Linked DNA regions of Homo sapiens: region 1 is linked to region 2. The links come from fine-mapping of genetic effects on gene expression. A gene starts in region 2. The other region holds a variant in brackets. All regions are shown on one strand. Distances are from middle to middle. Region 1 overlaps COL7A1 (collagen type VII alpha 1 chain). Region 2 holds the start of UCN2 (urocortin 2).

Region 1 (8,000 bases), 27 kb after region 2:
TTGGGAGAACTGAGGCGTCATGGTGAGGATGGGGGTAATCAAAGGGTCACAAGGGCCAGAGTAACTGGCAGGGGTTATGTGGGTTCAAATGGGGTCACCAGGTCTCTGCATCACATGGCACTCATGAGGCTGTCACCTTCATGGCTGTTCCAGGAAGCCCTGGGGGGCCACGGGGTCCTGGGTCCCCCAGTGGTCCACGAGGTCCAGGGGGGCCCTGATGGAGGAGACAAAGTATAAGGTGCAACCCCACAGACCTCACTCTCGCCCCCCTCGTGTTGGTCCCCCCACTACACATCACTTGCCTCCACATACCCTGCACTTACCGATGGTCCAGGGTCCCCTTTCCGCCCAGGAAGCCCAGGTCCTTCACCTCCGATGACTTGTCCGGGAGCCCCCTGTAAGGACAGAGAGCAGTGGGCAGGATTCAGGCTATGGGGGCCTTGAGCTGGAAGAAGCCCCTAGACATGTCCAGCTATTCCTATTCGCGCCTTAGGCCCTGCACAGGGTCTGGTGTGGGGCAGTCCTGCTCCTCCCTGGGACATCCCGGCCGCCTCCCTTCCCCCTTCACCTACCGGCTCCCCCTTTGGGCCTCGAGGTCCTCGCTCTCCCTGAGGACGAAACAGAGCAGAGGGTGGTGCTTGGGCTCAGGCGAATGTCAACGTGGGCACTGCACCACCACCCCAGGCTCCCACCCTGTGGAAGAACCCTGGGAAGACACTTAGAGAGCAAAGAAGGGAAGGCACCTTACCGGGTCCCCACGAGGGCCAGGCAACCCTGGAGAGCCCTGCAAATGGAGGCCAGAGGCAGAACAGTCGGAGCCACCCCACCCACTCAGGCAGCGCCCACCCTGACCTGCAGGACAAGGCTTGCTCACCTTTAGGCCAGGGGCTCCAGGGGTCCCAGGATTCCCGGCGCGGCCAGGGCTGCCTGGACGCCCATCTGCTCCAGGGAAGCCCTGAGGAGGTGAAGAGGTCAGGACAGGAAGGGACCCTCCCCCAAGGCCCCTGGTTTGCTGGAGGGGCCTCACCCCATCAACAAGGGGTCGCCTACCCCACTGACCCCCAAGTGTTATTGGGGGTGGAACAGTGAGGCAGAGAAATGGCCCCTCAGAGCTTCACAGAGCCCAATTCCAGGCACAAGGGCAGCGACAAGGCAGAGGGCTTCCCTGCCTCTGGGACTTGGAGCTGCTGCTCAGGCTCTGCAGCGGGGCTAGAGGCCCCACTGGCCCTTCTATTTCAGAGTGTCCCCCAAAGTCTCTGTGGTGGTTTATAACCTCCAGCTGGGCTTCTAGGAATTCCCGATGATTCTAACTCTGCTTCTTCCTTCTCTCTTGTAAAAACCCCGAGACAGCTTTGAGGAGTGCCTCAGAGAAACCTCGATGGTCTCCACACTCACCCTCTCGCCCTTGGCAGTGGCACTTCCAGGGGGCCCCTGGGGGCCGGGAGCACCGGTCCTGCCCTGAAAGAAGATAGCAGTTAGGTGGGGATAAGCCAGTCAGGGTGCAGGGACAGATGTGGGGGACACTCACCGGGAGGCCAGGGTCGCCAGGAGGCCCAACTTGTCCTCTCAGGCCCTAGGAAGGGTAATCAGTGAGACCTGTGCTGCCAACCTCTCCTGCCCCACTGACACTCAACCCATTCTCTATTCCCCGCCCGCAGGGGCACTCACCATCTCTCCAGGTTCCCCCTTCTGGCCCTGGGGAAAGACATGTCAGATGTGGGTCAGAGTGGCTAGCCCCAGGTGCAGCCTCTGTTCACCTCTCGATGAGGGACTCTTACCTTTGGACAATACACTGGGCAGGGCTCTGGCCGGGGCTGCGGACATAGGGTCTCTTTGAGGTTGAACATTTCTACCAAGAACCCCCAGACCCCTTATATTCTACCACCCAGTCCCCCAGAGGCCTCTTCCAAACCTGAGTAGTGAAGGATGCCTGACACAGGGCTGTGGCCAGACCACTGACTGCCTGGTCCAGGCTTGGCCCATCATCCACGGCGAAGAAGGTCTGGACAGAGTCCATACCCGGCGCCAAGCGACGCAGCTGCTCTGGGTCCGCTCCAGCCATTCCCAACATCACCACATTAAGCCCTAAGGTGGGGTCCAGTGGCTGCATGATAGCCTTTTCAGGGCCACCCCTATTCCCAGACCCCTTCCCCATCAGCCTACTCCTTACCAGAAGCCTGGGCCTCACGGATGGGGCTGAATATGTCACCTCTCAAGGGTTCATCCACTAGCAGAACCATCACCCCTGGTACGTGCTGGCGGCGCCCAGGAGCATCTGGTGCCAACATGTATCTGTGAGCTGTGACCACGGCTGTGCCTGGAAGGAAGGACATGTCAGAACCCTGGGGCACCAAGCTCCCAGTGGATAGCCCCAGGAGTCCATGCCTGCTGCAGTCCTCACCCAGGTTGTTCCCACTTGGGTCCATGTAGGGCATGTCACGGATCCTTTGCAAGATAATGCCAAGGTCATGGGAGCCATTCAGTGGGAACAGTGGGGAGGGCCGATGACTGTAAGACAGCAGGCCAACCTGGGGTGGAAGGAAACACAGAGCCTGAGGAGGATGACAGAGCAGGGATGGGGGTGCACAGAGCCTGGAGAAACACATCAGGGTGTGTGTGACCAAACCCTATCTATTAGGGAGTCAGCAGTGATGGCAGGATAGGGAGCCAGGCAGTAGGTGAGGTCTGGAGCCTGTGAGAGAGCTGGGAGAATGCCTGAACCTATTGGGTGGTCAGGAGATGGTAACTGGTATGGAGCCTGGGTGGGGGGCCTCAGGGAGAGGTAGAATCTGGCTGCCCCAGGGCCAAACCTGAACTGCCTGTGGCCCAAGAGGCCCAAGTGCCAACACCAGACGCTCCAGGACCCTCCTCGTAGCCTCCGCACGGTGAGCATTGTCTTGAGTGGCATGTGGTAGGAACACCACATCCGCCAGGCCACGGGGGCACACTGTAGGAAGGGGAACAAGTTACTGAAGCGGGCAGCCCACCCAGACACACCTTTCTGCCCTTCCCACTACGCCCACTATACCTGGCGTCTGTGTGACAGATGCCTCAGGACCCCGCACACCATCCAGGACAGGCGTCAGGGAGAAGATGTAAGAGACGCCAGGCTCTAGCCCTGTCACCCGCTGGGAGCTTGAGATCCCTGGAAGTGTCTGCGGGGACCCAGGCACTTCTGCAGGAGACAGAACTTGATTAAAAAGCTGTCTCCACAGAGCCCCAACTGCCAGCCCACCCAAATCCTGGCCTCCCCCTCACCCTGGCCAGGGCCTCTGAGTGGCCGCCAGGATAGGATGTAGCTGGATGCCCTGGACACTGGAGTCCAGGCCAAAGTCACCGAGTCGATCGAGGTGTCCACCACACGTAGTTCAATGCTTGGAACACGAGGTGACTCTGAAGGAGGAATGAAAGATCGAGGATCAGAGGCTGAGTCCTGAGAACCCAGAAGGGAGAGATCTGAGATCCTGGGTCCGGTTTGTCTTATTGAAGCATCATGGGAGGTCATGCTGGGGTCACCCAGGGTCAGAGGGTGAGGGGTAGGGGTACAGGAGGAGTCACTCAGAGTCGGGGTGCAGGAAGTCAGGGTGGGTCATCAGCAGGGGAGGAGCACGCCAAGGTGAGGCAGGCTTACCAGTGCGCGCAGTCACCTCTGCAGAGGGCCCTTCTCCAGCTGGCCCTAGGACACTCAGCCTCACGCGGTACTGTGTCGCTGGCTCCAGCCCGTCCAGGTGATAGCTGCTGAGCTCGGGCCCCAGGACCCGGGACTGTTCCTGGCCACCTGGGGCAGGCGTGAGGGTGGGGGCCAAGAGCATGTGGGATAGTGACACCTGGGGGCATTAAAGGGCCTGCCCACTTCACTGGCTCTGTTAACTGGGTTCACCCTCCTGACTGATCTTCCTCATCCTCACTGACCCTGCCCACTTTACGGACCCTGCCAGACTGACCCTCCATGAACTCATTGATCCCACCCACTTCATTGATTGATCTTACCTACTGTCACGGATCCCGCAGACCCCCAGTGACAGACCCCGCCCACCATCACTGTCCTCGCCTACCTTGCGGAGTCTGCCACAGCCCTGCCCCCAATGGTCCCTAACTTCCTCCTGGGGACACCTCTCACCCTCAGGTTGCCAGTGCAGAAGGAAGCCCTGCGCTCTGGGCACCGGCTCCCAGCGCAGCCTCAGCGAGTGCTCCCCGCGCTGCACCACGTGAAGCGTCCCCAGGGCTGGCGGAGCCTCAGGCGCTGGAGAGAAAGCTCAGGAATCAGGGAGGCTCTGCCCCCATGGCCCCTGCACCAATCCCAGGCCCACCCTGGCACACGCACCCCGCCCAGCCTCTCAGACCCCTCTCCCTCCTCTCAGACCCTGCCCCCAAAGGCTCACTACCAATCCTGGTCCTTTCTCCAATCCAGAGCACAAGCCCGGATCCCCAAACCATCCACACCACCCATCC[G/A]AAGCTCTCCAGCGCATGCTCTGCCTACGCGTAGTGACAACAATGGAGACAGGTGTGCCCTCGCGGTCCCCGACAAGTGCAGTCACTCGCACTGAGTAGCTGACTCCACCTTCGAGACCCCGGATCTCTGCAGAGTCTGTGTTTCCTGGGAGTATCTGGTGCCTCATGGGGCCGCCTGGCCAGGTGGGCATACAGCAATGGTTAGGGGTGAGCAGTCCCAGCCAGGAAGGACAGGGGTGGCGTCAGGGAGCCATACCTTCACTCCGGCCCCAGGCCAGTCTGTAAGCTGTGGCTCCAGTGACCCCTACCCAGGTGATCCGTAGAACGTCGCTGGAAGCATTGAGGATCTGCAGCCTCGACACACGACCCACAGGCTCAGGGGCTGGGGACAGAGGCAAGGTAAGGGGTCCTGGTAGAGAACAGAGAGGCAGTGCAGGAATGGTTGACGCAGGGGTGATCTGAAAGTCAGTGTGAGGTTAGTGTGGACAGGTCACTTTAGGCAGCCCTGAGGAGGAGGAGGTCAGTGCCTTGGGGTGGGCAGTGTGGGGCCACCAGGAGGTCACCGTGGGTGGACACTTAATCAGTGTGGGGTGGGTCAGTGTGGACAGGACAGTCACTGAGCAGGGGGGTGGAGGCAGCTGGGCAATCAGGAACACACAGCAGGGCAGGGTAGCTAATGCGGTGTGGCTAGTAGCTGGCCAGGGTCCACTCACCAGTCCTCACAACCACAGAGGCAGGGGGCCCATCCACGCCAGCCACATGGGCCCTCACATGCACCGTATACTCAGTATCTGGCTCCAGTCCATCCAGCTCAGCCACCGTGGCCTCCCCAGAAACCAACTGGGATTTCTCTGGGCCTGGGAACAGGGATGGAGGCAGCTCCAGGGCTAGCAAACTCTGTGCCCCAGAGCCCCACCTGGACCCCCAATAAACCCCCAGCCCCCATTCCACCCTGACCTGCCCCCTCCCAAACCCCAGTCCCCACCGTGGGCTGAGTGCCAGGAAACCCTGTATCCTGTGGCGCCAGGAACCCTGGTCCAGGTAATGGTGACAGATGAGCTGCTGGCCTGAGTCACATGGACCGTCCTCACTGGGCCCAGTGGGTCTAGTGGGGAGAGGCAATGGGGAGTCTGCTGGAACAGGCAGGAAGGAGTGGGGCTATCTGATAGGGGAAGATGATGGGAGTCTAACAGGAGACGGGAATTTGATAGAGGAGATGGTGAATAGGTCCAGTGGAGGAGTGGGGAGGTGGAGGTTTTAGGAAGCAGTGAGCAGGTCTGATGGAGGAGAAAGTGTAAATCTCAGAGGAGATTTGGGTCCAGCAAAAAAGGGATGGGGGTCTGAGGGTTGAAGTGGTGGATATTTGAGGGCAAAGGCTGTGGGAGTCTTAGGAGAGAAGCGGAGGAATCTGAATACGGGGAGGGCTTAAGGGGAGACAGCTGAAACTGAAGAGGAAGCAGCGTCTCTGAGGGAGGAGGGAGTGGGATTCTGAAGGGGGAGGCAGGAGTTCTGGGGAGAAGCAAGGGTCTGCAAGGGAAGGCATGGGGGTCTGAAAGAGCAATGGAGGCAGAGAGCCAAGGGACGGGGGCAGGGCCTGACCCGTTCGAGCCACGATGACTGCAGCAGGGCCCTCCTCTCTGCCTCGCAGTACCGACACAGCCACCTGGTAGGTGGTTCCAGGCTGCAGCCCTGTGATGTCTGTGGCAGTAGAGTCTGGGGGCAGTGTCTGGCTGGACTCCGGACCTGAGGTCAGAGGGAAATGCTGGCATGGCTCCTGCCTGTCCCCTCTGGCACCCATACCCTCATTGGTCCCTTTGGCAGTCCCCCCACACACCCCACACTGACCACTGCCTGTGCTCCAGCTAATCCGAAATCCACTGGCTCCAGGGACGGGTCCCCAGGCCACCCTCACTCGCGTTGCATCTGACACCACAACCCGCAGCCCTGGAACAGCAAGTGGAGTTTCCGGCTCTAGGAGTTACAGACAGAAGTCAGAAGTCAGAACCAGGACCAGAGTGAGGCAGGCAGCTGTCCTCCACAAGCCTCCTGCAGTACTCACCCCGGCGGACAGTGAGGACACTGGCACTGCCCTCACGGGGACCCACTCGAGCAGACACCCGCACAGTGTAGCTAAGCCCAGCCTGAACGTCATCCAAGTCGAATGCTGTCTGACTCCCAGGAAGCACCAGGGTCCGCTCAACCCCTAAGAGAGAAGTCAGGGTAGGTGGGCAGGGGTCAGAAAGAGACAGGGATGTGGGACGATGGCAGTGATGGACAGGGACGCAGAGTGAGAAGGGCCATGGGGGTGGGGATGTGGGGTGGTGGGGACCAGAGAGCTGGGATATGGCTGAAAAAAGTGAGTGCAAGACAAGGACATAGGATGAAAGGGGCCAGTGATGGTCAGGGACACTGGAGGACAGGAGTCTGTGGGATCTTAGCATGTAGGATGACAGGAGTCAGTGGACTGCAGTGAGAACTGATGAGCCATTGACAGACACTGATGTGGGATGGCAGAGGTCAGTGCTGGATGGGGACATGCAATGAGAGGTTGGTGTACAGTGGTCACCACTAGGGTAACAGAAAGACAGGTGATTGAGCTTGTGGCTGTGCAGAGGTGAAAGCCGTGGATGGGGTGTGGGGCAGGGAGGAGATTGGTTGGGGTAGGGTAGGGGCAGACACACCCTGTTGACAGTTCAGGGCTCAGTGCCATCTTGGGAAGCAGATGGATAACGAGACAGGGAGGAGACTATAGGGACCCAGGTGTGGAAGGAGAGGGCTGGAGGTACACTCAGACCCCTCAGGCTGGAACTTCAGTGTGTGTGGTGGGGGTGCTGGCTGCGTCCACCTCACCCTGGGTGCTGCGCACAATGATGCGGTACTGGGTGGCACCAGGGACTGGGCTCCAGGACACTCGCACCCGCTGCCCGGGCAGCTCGGTGGCTTGCAGGTCTGTTACAGGGCTCACAGGCAGCTCTGGTCCTGTTGGAGAGCACAGCATAGAGGCAGCCTGGGGCTCCGACACCTCCCCCACTCACTGGCCCAGCCCACAGAGCCCTCACCAGTGGGAACCACGGTTGCAGGGGTGGCCACCTCGTGGCCCTCCAGCAGAGTGTAGAGTGTGAGGCGGTACTCAGTGCCCGGCTGCAGCCCATCCAACTGGTAGCGGGTCACATCAGAGGGCAGTACCACCTTCTGCGGTGGCTCCAAGCCTGCAAGATAACAGGGTCAGACCAGCAGAGGCCATGCCCTGACCCTTGCCTGTCCATCCCTTCCCCCGCACTGACCAGTCTCACGCCGCCATTCCAACCGGTAGCCACGGGCCTCAGGCACCAAGTTCCAGGAAAGGAGGATGGATGTGGGGCCCAGGATGACCGGGCGCAGGGTCTGCTCAACAGAAGCGTCTGCCCAGGGCACATGGGATGTCAGTGGCCTCCGGGCCTTGCCCTGCCTGCCCGTCCCAGCCTGAAGAAAGTGCCCAGCCTTCTCACCAGTGCGAGCCATCAGGGAAGTGGCGGGCCCCACACTGCGGCCAAATAGGGTGCTCACGG
Region 2 (15,285 bases):
GGTGAAACCCTGTCTCTACTAAAAATACAAAAATTAGCCGGGTGTGGTGGTGCACACCTGTAATCCCAGCTACTCGGGAAGCTGAGACAGGAGAATTGCTTTAACACAGGAGGCAGAGGTTGCAGTGAGCCAAGATTGTGCCACTGCACTCCAGCCTGGGGGACAAAGCAAGACTGTCTCCAAAAAAAAAAAAGAACACACTGTTTATAACATTGAGCATGTGCGGAAGGAAATGTGAAGACATGTCAGCCCAACTTCCCTCATGGGTTCCTTTCCTGTAAATTCGCTGCAGGCCCCATGAGCTCTAGGAGCGAAGGGGCCCAAGGGGCCTGAGACGTGCCTGGCAATGGGCAGTGTCTATGTTCCATTACTTCTACCCAAGGAGCAGCCACAAGTCCCTGGAGGGGGTGCCAGAATTGACTCCTGAACTGCAACTGCTCTCACCTCCTTAGGCCAGGCTAGGGAAGGAAGAGCTCTTTAAAATAAAGTAACGTGCCATGGAGGCCCTTTTCAGAGGGGACTGAAAGTCATCTCTCCTGTTGCCCTGTGCACACACCAGTCATGTCCTTACCCAGGAAGAGTCTTGCCACCTTTCAGCTGAGAAAAGCCATCAAACACCGTCCTTTCTGCAGTCCTTCTTGAGTCAGCTCTTGCCCCACCTGCCCTCAGAGTTCCTCCAGGTCTGAGCTCGGAGGCCAATGATGGGAAAGGTAAAAGCCTCCCAAGCCCTCAGGTGTGGCTTTAAATTTTATCAAGCGGGGGCGTGCCTGTGGGAGTGGAGGAGGTGCAGTACATCCCTCAGTCCACCAGCCCCTAGTGCCCTGAGGAGCTGGGGACTAGACTCCAGAGAAAACCCAGTACAAAGCACAGACCAGCAGTGGGTCCTGCTTCTTCCTCCCCACAAAGCCCTGGGACCAAATCCGCTTCCATCCCCACCCACACCCTCCGGGTCCAGACTGTCCTTGCAGTCACTCAACCTACAAGTCTACTATGCAAAGGGTAAAGTGTTGCCCAAATGCAGGCACTGGGAGCTGGAGGTGCTGCATGGGCGGGTTCCATGTTCATTCACTGCTTACCCACTCCCTGCTGTGAACCCTGAGGCCCAAATCCCCAAACAACCTGCAGGTCTCATCTTTGGCCTCTCAGGTGCTACCTCCTCCTCCAGGAAAAAGTGCGGACCTAGAACCCAGCCTACCCCAACACCCTGAGACACCGTGATGGCACGAGCCCCTCAGCTCAGGCCAGAGCCACATTTCAGTTCCACACTTAGAGCCTGGAGAAACACAAGCCCTGCCTCAGGAGCTATGAGACCTTCCCATTGGGCCTCAGCTTCCTCTCACCTGTAACGGGGGTTGGCTTGGAGCTGATGCATCAATCCCTGACTCAGACGTAGTGAGAAGCAAAGAAAGAATGGTAGTGATGACAGAATACCCTGCCTCCGCTTATTGAGGACCTACTCCTTAAAGGCTCACAGACTTGGCTAGGCATGGCAGCTCATGCCTGTAATCCCAACACTTTGGGAGGCCAAGGGGGGCAGATCATTAGAGATAACGAATTCAAGACGAGCCTGGCCAACATGGTGAAACTCCATCCTACTAAAAATACAAAATTAGCCGGCCATGGTGGCGCATACCTGTAATCCCAGCAACTTGGAAGGCTGAGGCAGGAGAATTGCTTGAACCCAGGAGGTAGAGGTTGCAGTGAGCTGAGATAGGACCACTGCACTACAACCTGGGCAACAAGAGTGAAACTCCGTCTCAAAAAAAAAAAAAAAAAAAAAGTCCAGGTCCTCACTCCTTTCCCCTATGTAGTAATAGCAGCCACCCCCCTAAGTCAGGACCACACAGCCCTAATAACACAGACTGGCTCAGCCTCCCCGCCTCCAGAAGAGTCTCAAAGGAGGGGTGGCCATAGCCCTCAGGACTGAGTGTGCATTATAGACAGCACAGCCCCACCAGGACCTACATCACAATCAAAGCCATGAGTTACCACGACTTGGTCTGGTCAGAAACATGGCCTTCCCCTGCCAGGACTCACAGTGTGGCCAGAAATACACACACCCTTCCCCCAGGACTCATATCATGATCAAAGCCATGGCTCCAGGCTGCTGCAGCAGGATGAGCACAAAGAACTCTCCCCTTGCTTATCATACATAAGCAGAGGCAGGATCACAGGGAGACCCAGGCATGTCACTCAATCTCCTGATCTCCATTTCACTGTCTGTTAAACTAGATGTTCTCTGAGGTGCTGGACAAGCTGCAAATTCATTACAATGTTTCAGTTACTCCTAAAACAAATCTTTCTTTTCCTGGTAATAAAAAAGTTGCAGGCCAGGACCCACGCCTGTAATCTCAACACTTCGGAAGGCCGAGGCCAGAGGATCCACTTGAAGCCATGAGTTGGAGACCAGCCCAGACAACATAGCAAGACCCTGTCTCTACAAAAAAAAAGAAAAAAGAAAAAAAAAAGCTGGGTGTGGTGGCGCACCTATAATCCCAGCTAATCGGGAGGTTGAGGTGGGAGGATTGCTTGAGCCCAGAAGGTCGTGGCTGCAGTGAACTATGATCGCGCCACTGCACTTGCTCCAGCTTGGGCCACTGAGCGAGACTCATCTCTTAAAAAAAAAAAAAACTGCCAGCTCATTTAAGGACAGGCAGAAACTCAAGGAAGCGGTTTAAACACCTGGGACCCTAGGAGAGGTGAGCCCCTTAACAATTCCATGAATTTCAGCATTCTCCTAGCTGTTTCACTCTCCAGTTTTACTGTACACCCATGACCCCAGGTGGATACTTACATGTCCCGGGACACAGACACAGGCCCACACGGCATACTTTTCTGTCTCTATCCTGAGCACATCTCTGCTGAAGTTCCTGCCCAAGCTCAGCTTTAAGGCCAAGAGGCACCCTTCCTCCTGTTGGAAAACTAGCCCACCTTTGAAAGTTCTGGGCTCAGAGAGGCCAAGTAATTCACCTAGGGCCACACAGCTCAGTTCCAGTCCAACAACCCGGCCCACACTCCTTGGCCAGGAGAGAGGGAAGGGCCTGGGGTGCCCACAGGGTCCTCCCCAGACTGGGGGCGATGGGGATTGGAGAGGGAAGCGAGGGGGCCAGAGCCCTCCCCGAGGTGATGGTGGCCAGACCTAGCCACCGCCAAGCCGATATGCCCCCACACACCTGTCCCCGCCCCCTGCTCTGCCACACCTGTCTCTGGCCCACCACTGTCACGACCGCCTCACCTGTCCCCAGCAGCCTCCCCAGTCACGGCAACCTCACCTGTCCCCGGTTCCCCATCTGTCTCCCGCCCCTTCTCCATGCGAGACCCCCGCCCAGGCCGCCCTACCCACCCATCCCGGTGCACCTCCCACCTCCTCCCAGAGGACCCCGCCTCACCACCGCGCTGGCAAGCGTGCAGAGCGGGCCGCCCATTGCTGTATGGCATCCAGATCTTCTTCAGGGGGTTCTGTGTCAATTCCCGTGGGGACGCCATCCCGGGGCCGGGATGAGTCGGACTGCGCCGCTTCCAACCCAGCAGCCGGGCCACCTCGGGCCACCCGAGGTCCCGCCCCTTGGGCCCCGCCCCTCCTCAAGCCGCGACAGCCCATGTCTATCTTCCCGCAGGTCCCGCCCCAGAGTGAGTAGGCTCCGCCCCAGCTGAAAGGGGCCCGGCCTCCGACCACGCATGCCCAACTCACCTACCCGCCCGTTTTGGAACAAGTGGGCCCAGTTCTTCAGGCCAGGATCGAGAATGCGCATGCTCAACTCCGGATTGTACTGGTCCCGCCCCAGTTCAAGGCCCGGATTGTGCAGGCCCGCCCCGGATGCGCAAACTCAGCTCTCCCAACCTGCCCGCGCTGATTTGCATAGGCCCCACCTACGGGCTCCGCCCTGGCGCTGCATCCCTGAGCAGCGGCACGCGTGAATTCTGCTACCTCCTTGCTAGGGAGCCCAGGGCCCCCAGGAGGGAGGGGTTTTCATGCAGTGGGACGAGGCCTACGTGACCCGCACGGCCAGGTTGGTCAGAGCCGACAGGGGCCAGTAGGCCTGCAGTCCCAGCCGTCAACTCCGCTGCGCCCTCCTGCCCCTCCTCGGGGTCCCCCTTGACTGCTCCGAGCCCCGGGACTCTTCCGCCGTCCATAGGAGCATGCTCAACCACGCTGGAAAAGCTCTTTTACCTCATGGATAGAGACTCAAAACACATTTCAATATTGTTCCTCTTTCTTTGCTTTGGCTGCTGGGAGCAAATGCGTGGGACTTTTTTTTTTTGAGACGGAGTTTCGCTCCTGTTGCCCAGGCTGGAGTGCAATGGCGCTATCTTGGCTCACTGCAACCTCCGCCTCCCGGGTTCAAGGGATGCTCCTGCCTCGGGTTCCCAAGTAGCTGGGATTACAGGCGCCCACCACCACGCCCTGCTAATTTTTGTATTTTTAGTAGAGGCGGGATTTCACCACGTTGGCCGGGCTGGTCTCGAACTCCTGACCTCAGGTGATACGCCCTCCTCAGCCTTCCAAAGTGCTGGGATTACAGGCGTGAGCCACCGCGCCCGGCCGTGCGTGGCACTTAGTAACCAAGTACTTTGGGTACTCACTAAGCCCTGGGAGTATCTTAATCGTCTTTCCAGAATTTCATTTTTTACAATTTTTTTTTGATTTTTAGTATTTTGGTTTTTTTAACTAAAGTTTTACATATTTTTTGAAAATAATATGTTAATAACATTTTCTCTTCAGGAAAATGGGATGTGCACATTGTCTATCTTACAGTATTACAGTATAAATTAAGTATGTCAATCTCTAAGAAATTCATTTTAAAATACGTTATGGTTGCCTTTTACTATATTTGTATCTCCCTCTTGTCTTTGAAAATGCACTGGGGACAAGGAACAAGGGAGAGATCCAGAAGTTCCTAAACCCCTGGCTCACTTTCTTGTTTGGCCCCCACCGGACTCCTGCAGTTTCCCGCCTCCTCGGGATCCCCAGCCCCGCCTCTCCAAGCTTTGTACACTCTCTGCCCCAGCCCCCACCAACACGGCTTCAACCTGAGCCACACTGCCCTCTAGCGATGTCATCCACAACACCCCTGGCAGGTGCCCTGCATCCTCAGGTTCTCTCTGCCCAGTGTGTACCCAGCCAGGAGCCAGGTGTTGAGGGCATGGGACTGGCAACAAGACTGGCCTCGTGGGCTATAGGTGTAGCACCCCCTCCCATGCCCTCCCTGCCACAGCCCTGCCTTGGATCAGTCCAAGTCCACCCAGCTCTTTAAAGCTTGGCAAGGACCCTTAAGATGACTGACACAGATGTCTTGCCCACTTCATAGGAACTGAAGATTCCAAAGGTCCACATGCTGGAAGCCCATCTGGACCCTCCCCCAAACCAGCTCTAGCTGCTTGCCCTGGGAACACCCTGCCCCAGGCAGAGTCAACAACTTCCTCCTTCCTCATCCTCCTTTTGCAGTATCTACCCGCTTATTCCTCCACCCCAGTCCCAGCAGATCTGAGCACATCCATGGGCGGCTCCTGATGAGCTGGGTGCCCCTCGTGACCTGCTCCCTACTTCTCCAAAGCCACTCATTCTGTTCGTGACACAGCCAGCCCTCTTGTCTTCTGGCCACTGCCAAGGCCATCTTGGGGCCACCGTGGCCTCTGAGACCTCATTACCACATGCCCACACCCTGTCTAACCCGCAGCACTCATTGCAAAAGCTATCTCCTCTGATATCTACAGACACCCAGCACCTCCTCTGGCCTGTCCATTCTCTTCCCAGACCTCCTGGGATGCTAATCAAGGGCTGGGGGTAGAGGACAGCTGGCCTGGGCAGGGGGCCAGGGCTATCTCTGGGAAGGCATCCTCACACCCAGACAGGATGAGCCTGGTTCCCAGGAAATGCAACAGCTCTGCACCTTCCTCTCTTCCCCAGAAAGTCTACCCGTGGCTGACCCAGGCACCCTCCTTCAAGGCCCTATGTCCAGCTGGAAGGCCACAGGTCAACATCAGGAGATGCCTGGGGTTCCTCCCCAAGGCCACCGTCCACATCTGCTCTGAGGATATTCTCCATCTCCCCTCCCATGGCCCTGTTTGTCAGGTGGGAAACTGAGGGTCAGGAAGAGGGAGAAGGGTCCAAGATCACAAAGCGAGTCCACAGTGCAGCATGGACTCAGCTCAACTCCCAGCCTTCCAGACCTTGCCTGCCACACTACAGTGGAATCGCACAGTCCACCTTCACATGTGTGCTCCCACTCCCCTGTGTCCTCTCCATGGAGATGCTGTCCCAGCGTCTGCTCTCTCAGCATCAGCGGATGCCCGGTAGAATCTCTGGCCCTCATGGCTTTTTCCTCCTCAGTATATCCGAAAGTGAGCCAGCTGTTCTGTCCCAGGCGTGGGAAGTATGCTGGGATGTCTGTACACACGTGTGAACATGTTCTGCTCAGCCTCTGCCCACCATGAACCTGGCTGGCCTGACCCTGGTTGGCTCCCAGGGTGCCCTCTGCACTGACCACTGGACTTCCTCCCAGTGTCCCAGCCTAGAAGCCATGTGGTGGCCAGTTCTCAAAGCTCAAACTCTTCCCAGTCCCTGTATCTACTGGCCAGTCCTGACAGAACTGCCAAACCATCCCACCACACACACACACACACACACACACACACACACACACACACACACACACACAGTCTCGCTCCTGTTACCCAGCCTGGAGCACATAGTGCAATCATGGCTCACTGCAGCCTTGAACTCCTGGCCTCAAGCGATCCTCCCGCCTCAACCTCCCAAAGCCCTGGGTTTATAGCCATTAGCCACCACATCTGGCCCACAAACCACCCTTTGCAGCATAAAGACCCAGGGGTTTCAGTGCATGCCACACAGGCCCACACACTGATGCACACAGAGACACTGGCACAGCTGCACATGCACACACAGACGCACACACACTCACAAGTCCTGCACCCCAGCATGTGCAGAGACAGGCAGGCTGCAGTGGGGCCTGCTGCTCTCTGCTGCCTCCCTTCCCACATATATCTCTCCACCCCCAGCCCTGCTGTCCACTGGGAGGTTCAGGAGTTTCCAGGAATTCCAGCTTCCTCTGGCCATTTCCAGCAAAGGATTGTCCCCTGTGTCTCCCTGGGCCCAGGGCTCACAAGGAGTGTGAAGTTCTGACTTCAGGTTATAGAACCATGTCACCAAGCAGCCTGGGAACCCTGATCTGCACTTCCTCCTTCCAGCCTGCCACAGGGCGTACAGTAGGTGCTTAGGGATTCAGGACCAGCAAGGGCACACAGAAAGGGTTCAGAGAGGTTCATGACCAAACTGAGTACACAGCAGGTGTTCAGAGAAGCTCAGGACTGGCACAGGGCACACAGCAGACACCCTAGAAGTGCTGGTTTAAGGGCTAAAGCCACATCATGTGAAACCCATCCTAAATGAGCCTCTAGACTTCCCCAAACTGGTGTGACCCCAAGAGGAAACCTGGACAAACATGATCCCTTGGAGGCCAGCAAAGAGCAGAGCAGGAGGGCCTGGGCAGCGCCAGCTGGCGGTCCCTCCCCCTGGGCTGGAGGAAGACACTATTTATAGTTCCCCCTTGGCCCAGCCCCCTCTCCCTTGCAGGGCGACAGTTTTCCCCCTCCTTCGGGCCACTGACAGATGAATGGCCCTCAGAGCACCCCTAAACCAGGAGAGACCCCCCAACACTCTCGCACCCCTCCAGCACCACCCTGACTTCATCCAGGTCTTTCCCTAACCCTCCACCCTCCCCACGCTGTCCCGTGCCTACCCCGCCTGCTGCTCCCCGGCCCCAGGTCGGTCAGGGAGCTGCCTCCTAACGAGCCTCTGTCCATCCTGCAACCAAACTGGCCAGGGCCACTGCCCCCTGCAGCTCCAGAGTGGGGTAACCCCGCCTAGCACTCTGAAGAGAGAGAAGCGACTCCTGCGGCTCCTGCAGCCCCGCCTCCCCAGCCCACTGTAGGCCCGCCCCCACAGGGCTGCTTACAACTGTGAGGGCAGCGCCAGTGCCCCCACTCCAGTCAGCCGGCCACGCTGTGGCCAGTACAGTCTCCCTCTCCCGCCAGAGCTGCCCATGCCACCCAGCGTCTGCCTTCATGTCCACCTAGAGTTGTCTGCACAGCCCAGAGTGCCTGCCCCCTCTGCGGGCAAGCCCGTCCACACTGCCTGGAAAGTCAGTTCTGTCTCTGGCCCAGCAATGGAGTTGGGCTGTGAAATCAGGCAAAACCTAGTCCTTCCAAACCAAGGGACCAGGTCAGTTAACCGGGGAGCTAGGGAGGAAGGCAGAGAAGCCAGGTATGACTCACCCACCATGTGTCGCGGCCTGGGTGCACACCACTGGGATTCTCGCACATCCCATCCTTCAGTCGCTTTGTGTTTATTGAGCACCTCCTGCTGCAGGACCTCCATGTCTGCTACATACACAATGCTCACAGGCTTGCTGGTCCCATCCTTCAGTCGCTTTGTGTTTATTGAGCACCTCCTGCTGCAGGACCTCCATGTCTGCTATATACACAATGCTCACAGGCTTGCTGGTGTCGCTTTGCTTTACAGATAAGGAAACCGAGGCTCGGAAAGGTGAACACCTTTGCCCAGGACAGTCCGTGCGTGAAGTGGGACAGAGTTTGGTTGGAGCTCCGGCAGCCTGAGCCCTGTCTCCTGTGAGCCCTGCATGTCCCTGGGTCGAGGCTGGGGATGCAGGGGTACGTGGGGAGGACAGGGCCTGGCCAGGAGTTGTTCTTGCTTCATGCAGGTTTGGGGGACAAGCACCCACTCCTCTCAGACCCCTCACGTACCCTTACCCTGCTCACACACACTCACAGCTGTCAGAGACTCAGCCACACACGCACATATGCGCCCATAAGACAAGGCTGCCATGGTCACAGGCTTCCTGTGTTCGGGCCTTTGTGCCTGGAGACACCCCTCACAGCCCCGTCCATCTGGGGCAGGTGCTGCCTCATGGGGCACAGAGCAAGCAAGTGACCCTCAGCCAGCATTTCTCTGTGTGGTGGCCTATGGGATGACAGACCTGTGGGCCTCAGAGGGACTGGTCGGAGGCAGTGTTGAGCTCTCGTGTTGAGGCTCCTGAAAGTAACATGATGATGACTGCATGTGGCGGTGTCCAGGTGTTCTGTGACTATGGGGCACCCAGACATAGCAAGACTCGCCACAGCAGTGACCTTACGTGGCAGCATCCAAGCTGTCCGGACATATATTAGGTCTGTGGGGCACACAGGCATGGCAAGACTCCATGTGGCAGTGACCCAACTTAGCAATGTCCAATGTCCAGGCTGTCCAGACACACTGTGACTCTGTGGGGCACTCAGATCTGATATGACCTGCATGACAGTGGCTCCATGTGGCAGTGTCCAGACACTGTATGCCCAGATGTGGCAGCGTCCAGACACTGTATGCCCAGATGTGGCAGCATCCGTCCAGCTGTGTGGCTGCCCTCCAGGTCTTCCCATCCAGGGTGGCCCTATCACTGTGACCCCCTCTCTCAGGCTCAGCAGTGGCCGACACGGGCCAGGATGCGGGCGTTGGTGGTGGCCTGCTCCCTGGCAGCCCTGGCCCGGGCTTGCTCCAGTAAGATCTGCAAGAGGCCGATGGGGACATCCAGCGATAGGACAATGCGCGAGCCAGGGTGGCGGGTGGGGCTGCAGTGGCTCTGGGCAGCCCACGGCCATGTGGGAGCAGCTGAGGGGCTCTCTGAGGCCGCAGGTCGGGGAGTGGTCTGGGGAGAATTCTGAGGGCGGAGCTGGAAGGTTGGGATAGGGGTCACTGGGACAACCAGGACTCTGCCCAACATCAGGACCATCAGCAACAGCAGAGCACACCTGGTCATCGTGAGGTCAGGCTGCAAGGAGAAAATGGGCTCAGGGCAGGGGCTCTGGTCAACTGGGGTCCATGGACAGAGACAGATGGCAAGGGCAGAGTGACAGAGCGGGGGATGGAGAGAGAGGAAGACACCGAGAAAGGGGTTAGAGAGGCCAGGCCAGGCCAGAGACAGAGAAGGGGAGACAAGAGGAGAGCCAGAATGAGACAAAGAGGCAGAAAGCAAGACAGAAAAAAAGAAACAAAGAAATCCAGAGACAGAGGGACAGCAAGAGAGGGAGATGAAGGAGATGGAGGCAGAGCAAAATGGAGACTAGAAGAAAAAGACAGACAGAAACCATCCCAGAGACAGACAGCATGATGGAAAGAAAGATTCAGACAGAAACACAGAGTCCACAGGAGGGCAGGCGGTTCTCAGCAGGAGAGCTTGCAGCTGATCCAGGAAACAGAAGGGCAGGAATCGGATCTCAGAGGCAGAAAAGCAGCCAGAGATCCCAGAGTCCCCTGGGTCCAAGCCCTCCATAAAGCCAAACCCCACATCCACTCAACCTCCAAGACCCTTCCCATCCCGACCCAACCCAGTCCTACCGCCACCAGCTGCTTCTGGGGTAAGGCAGCCTGCTGTGGCTGCCTGGGGCTGGGGCCAGGCACTACTGTCCTGTGGTCTGACCCTCTACCCCGCTTCAGGGCCCATTTATCTCCCTCAGCCCCCTGGGGTGGGAGCTGGTACATGCTTCCTGGCATGAGGCAGCCCCCCACCTATGACTCATCCCTCCCGGGGGTGTCCTTAGCCCCCACCCTATCTACTCTTTTCCGGGGACAAGTTGGGGACTGAGAATCACAAGACAGTGACCAGGACTGGGCAGAGGGACTCTGTACCCATGCAGAATAATACCAACCCCCCAAGGAAAACCTTCCCCCTTGAAACCCCCCATCTTCCCAAACAGTCACAACAGGAGCCTTTTAAAACAGCAGCTTTAATGCCCCCCAGAATCAGCACCATGTCATCACAGGCTTGGGTCAAGGGGCGGGTCAGACGCCAGTCACATCCGCTCACTGCCCACAGCCACCCCCCCACAGTGAGTCATCTGCCAGGGTGGCAGGAGCCACAATGGGGGTTTGTCCACAGGGGGGAAGGCTAGACCCACGGGACCAAGTCACTGAAATAACGGACGTGCACACGCACGCTCACGTGCACACAAGCCTCTAGCACCAAGGGGAGGGACAGTGGGGTTCTGCTGAGACCCCGACTCCTCCAGGGGATGCTGAATCTCAGCTCATTATCTGGGCCTCAGTCCTGGGCAGTACCTGGTGAGGACAGGTTGGAAACGGTCGTCAGCCATCTGACCTTCCCCGGAGACGCTCAGGCAGAGGCACCGCCAAGGGGAGGGAGCGGAGGCTACAACAGGAAGTGGGGGCTCTGACCTCAGAGGGGTCCATACTTAGGTCTTTAAAGGAGGGAACATGGAAGGGGACCCTACTGGGGGCTCCACGGCTGGGGCTCTATATTCAGCTCTTTGGTCTGGGCGTCTGCCCCAGGTCCCCTACTGCGAGGGAGCGTCTCCTCCAGGACCCTGACCTGGAACCCTGGCCCAAGGACTCCTCCCCCAGAACCCGATCCAGGCAGGCTCAGTGCCCAGTTCCCCACGGTGGGGGCTCAGCCCATACCTGTCCCCTGGCTCTGGACCACCCGGGGTGGGCAGCGGCGCTCGCAGGCCTCACGGGTCCCAAAACGGTTGGCATTCCCTCCACAGCCACCATAGACAAAAGGGTGACAGGCCTCTGTGCTGCCTGTCACAGCCCGATGGTACCAGCGCAGGGTGTAGGCAGTGCAGGAGCCCTCATCCAGTGGCAGGGAACAGGGGTCTGGGCCAATGGGGTCAAGTCAGCAGGGTTTGTGGGAATCAGAGAGGGTTGAAAGGTCAGGGGGAGGTCAGCAGGGCTCAGCCCTGCCTGCCCCTCCCCAGACCCCGCTGGCAGCCCCCCATTCTCACCATCACTATCCCAAGGAGCTTCAGGGTCCTGGTACTCCTCCACAGAATACTCGGAGTATTCAGAGTACTCATCATCCTCAGGGGGTACCCGCTCTGCAGGTAGGGCAGGGTGTGCTGGGAGCAGTGGCTGCTGGCCCCGGGGCAAGGTGGGCAGCACTGATTTCCACTGTGTGCACACAGTGCCCATGCGTGTGCCCTGCATGCAGACCCTACGTGCTTGGCGTGTGCCCTGCATTCATGGACACCCATGTGCGTGTCTCGGCCCCACCCATAGCTGCCCCACGGGTTCAGCTGTCCTCACCTTCCTCCTCTGCATGAGAGACGCGGAGCACAGGCACAGCATGGAGCTGGGAGCCGGCAGTGTCTGCAGCATAACTAGGGAGGGGTCCTGGAGCCAAGAGCAGGGGCCTCAGGGCCCTGAAGTCACCATGGGCAGCCATCCCAGCCAACCCCCCTGAGAGGACCCCAGTTGATAGGCAGGGCAGGGCCTGGGGTGAAGAAAGTTCTGGGAGTAGAAAACTACTCACGTGATCCAGATGCGATGAACTGGCCCTGGCAGGCTAGAGGGGGCAGAGAGGGATAGAGAGACAATGACAGAGAGAAGGATGGGAAGATGGAGAGACAGACAGAGACACACAGGCAGAGGGGTAGAGATACACAAAGAGATAGCAGGAGAGGGTAACAGGAGAGAGAGGAAGAGAGAGGGTGGGAGGTAGATAGAGAGATGGAAAAAGAGAAGAAGGCAGAGGAGAGGGAAGTTGGGAACAGGCCAACAAAAGGCAAGAGACAGAAGCAGGCCAGACACAGAAACAGGCAGGTGGTGCAGACAGAGACGGGAAGAGACAGCTTCACTCTGATGCCCCTCCCACCGGGTCCAGGTCAGGCCCAAGGGGACCAGCTCTGCTCCCACCATCATCCCACTCCCCACACAGCCAAGCTGGACATCTGAGAGCACTGCATGGCAATCCTCATCTGCCTGTGTGTCTCCCTCCACTGGGGACACATGTCATGTGTCAGTCCTGCAGCACATGTGTCCTTCTGTGTATCCATCCATCCCCCCATCTTCTTGACTGCTTGCCCTGTAAGTTCTAGGGGCCTGCCTGCCCTTGCCTAGGGTGCTGGGGTGGAGTGGGAGACTGCGGGCTGGGCACCACTCACCACAGTGCTGACTCATCTCTTGGCGCACAAAGCCCCGGATGTCATCCTCCTGGGAGCAGAAGACCACAGGGACCATAAAGAACCCATGGCCCACAGGAAGGACATAGGGCACATAATACAGGGACTATGGTGAGACTGCATGGAGCCAGGGCCCAGGGGTCAGGGTGCTGGGTGAGGGAGGTAGGGCCCCAGCCCACCCAGGCCCACCCAGGCCCTCCCAGGCCCATCCAGGCCCACACTCACCGTCAGTGCAGCTTCTCCCTTCTCGCCTCGAGGACCGGCAGGCCCTGGCCGCCCCTATGTGCAACAGATGGGACCAGGCTGTGACCTCTGACCTCAGGGACAACAGAAGTCACCCCGATCTCTGACCCAAGCCTTGGAATCCCTACTCACCTGCTCCCCTCTCTCGCCAGGAGCTCCAGGGACCCCAGGAGCCCCCACCACTCTCTCTCCGGGGGGACCTCGCTCACCCTGTCAGACACAGGGACCAAGTGAGCAGGGTCAGAGGCAGTGGGGATCAGAGTCAGGCAGGTTGGGGGCCACAGCTTCAGAGGTTGGGGCAGGCAGGCTGGAAGATGGTTATGAGGTTGGAAGGGTAGGGAAGGTTCAGGGATCAGGAGTCAGAGCTGGGGCCCCTTACCTTCTGGCCCTGAAGTCCTTCGGGGCCTCTGGGACCAACACTGCCAGGTGGCCCTGGGGGACCAGCAGAGCCATCATTTCCACTGGGGCCTGGGAAGCCCCCAATTCCTGGGGTTCCCTGGGGAGATATAGGACAGAGTCAGTAATCAGAGGCCCCAGAGATGGACCCTCTCCCAAAGTGCACGCTCCCCTCAATTCACCATGACCATGGCTTCAACTCACCCGCTCCCCTTTCTCGCCCTGGTCACCCTTGGGGCCTGGCTGCCCGTCAAAGCCTCGGTCACCCTGGGAACAGAAGAAGCATGAGAGACCTTCTGCCCTGACCTCCCTCAGCTCTGGAACCTCCCTGAACTCCCATGAGCTCCCTGGCCTAATGCCCAAACCTTCTGTAACCCAAGCACCTGTGAGCCAACCAGATGTGATCCCCATGACTCCAACTCCACTATAGCCCCCTGCCCTGATGCACATGCCCCCTCCACCTCCCATGCTTTCATCCTAACTCCACTGTGACCCCAACCCACCTTGACACCTCGAGACCAGCCCCACTTCAGCCCCCAAAGTCCCAACCCTCTACAGCCTTCCTTGTCCCTACACCCCCATGACCCGACCATGAGCTTCCCTGCCCCATCCTGACTCCCTGTCATGTCCACTGTCCACAGACCCTGTACCTTGGGACCGATCAGGCCCTCCTTGCCAGGGGCCCCCGACTGGCCCGGCACACCAGGCTCCCCCTGGAGAAAAAAAGACATGAACTTGGCCCCCGTCCACCCGTGGCCCCCTCATTCTGAGCGTGCCCACACTCACCATCTCTCCTTTGTGTCCTGCCAGCCCGGGGCGGCCTGGGGGACCAGCTTCTCCCTGCAGGCATCAGGCAGTGGGGTGAGCCTTAGGCCCCAGGCCACGTAGCCCCCCAGCCCCCATCCCCTCTGTACCTTGTCTCCCTTCTCTCCATCAAGGCCACAGGCTCCCTTCACTCCCCGTTCACCCTGAGGGAGAAAAGCAGATGAAGAAGTGATTCCCAGACACCTCACTCTGTGACCCCCTTCACCCTGAAACTAACTCTCCAAACAGGCCTCAGCTACTCCAACCTCTGACCCAGTGCCCTAATATCTGACCCCAGGTCCCTCGCCCTTCAACATTAGGCCTTCCTGACCAGAAAAAAACCAATCTTGTTTCTTTCCTACCTTGAGGCCCCGGGGACCCATGAAGCCAACATCTCCTTTTTCTCCTCGGATACCAGGCACTCCATCCTTTCCTGGGGATCCCTAGCAGGGAGAGGGTCCATGTGAGGTCAGAGGAGGTCAGTGAGGGACCAAAGAGAATCGCCCTGGATAGTGGGTAGGGAACACCATGGGGTGGGAGTCACCTCTGGAGGCCAGAGCCACTGGGGCTTGCCATGGGGACAAGGGTCACCATAGGCAGGGGACACCATCATAGGCGGCTACTGTGGAGGTGGGGGACCCTGGGTGACATGAGGACACCATGAGAGCACTGGGTCACTATAAGGTCAAAAGCTACCACACTGGTGGGACCACCATGGTGACGGGGGCCCTCTGGGGACAGGGGGCCCCTGTGGGAGCAGGGGCATCTTACCGGGTCACCAGGGATCCCTGCTGCACCAGGTTGACCCTGTGAGAAACACAGATGGGGGAGCCCTTCAGTGGGACTGTC

What was found.
Region 1: its variant is fine-mapped to the expression of UCN2 in breast (GTEx, PIP 0.94).

Annotation. Positions count from the first base shown.
Region 1 is chr3:48,584,162-48,592,161 of GRCh38, forward strand. COL7A1 (collagen type VII alpha 1 chain) reads right to left here. Exons shown (of 119, transcript NM_000094.4): 10 at 7,941-8,000; 11 at 7,737-7,853; 12 at 7,512-7,661; 13 at 7,303-7,431; 14 at 6,512-6,655; 15 at 6,298-6,423; 16 at 6,052-6,195; 17 at 5,438-5,557; 18 at 5,166-5,309; 19 at 4,709-4,834; 20 at 4,481-4,627; 21 at 4,121-4,243; 22 at 3,632-3,778; 23 at 3,259-3,393; 14 more. Among named protein-coding and RNA genes, the nearest start is that of COL7A1, 7.2 kb to the right of the region's middle. RefSeq lists enhancers at 4,169-4,872, 4,873-5,574. The variant G/A (reference allele first, on the strand shown) is at 4,453.
Region 2 is chr3:48,553,292-48,568,576 of GRCh38, forward strand. UCN2 (urocortin 2) reads right to left here and starts at 10,490. Exons shown (of 2, transcript NM_033199.4): 1 at 10,412-10,490; 2 at 8,427-9,845. The coding sequence starts at 9,833. The coding sequence ends at 9,495. It overlaps COL7A1 (collagen type VII alpha 1 chain), which reads right to left. Exons shown (of 119, transcript NM_000094.4): 105 at 15,208-15,243; 106 at 14,799-14,879; 107 at 14,547-14,600; 108 at 14,419-14,472; 109 at 14,283-14,345; 110 at 13,837-13,899; 111 at 13,616-13,732; 112 at 13,369-13,446; 113 at 13,219-13,272; 114 at 12,976-13,024; 115 at 12,345-12,377; 116 at 12,119-12,205; 117 at 11,818-11,910; 118 at 11,492-11,689; 1 more. The coding sequence ends at 11,115. It overlaps PFKFB4 (6-phosphofructo-2-kinase/fructose-2,6-biphosphatase 4), which reads right to left and starts at 3,512. Exons shown (of 14, transcript NM_004567.4): 1 at 3,390-3,512. The coding sequence starts at 3,486. RefSeq lists enhancers at 3,915-4,004, 4,135-4,224, 5,975-6,916, 6,972-7,111, 14,811-15,285.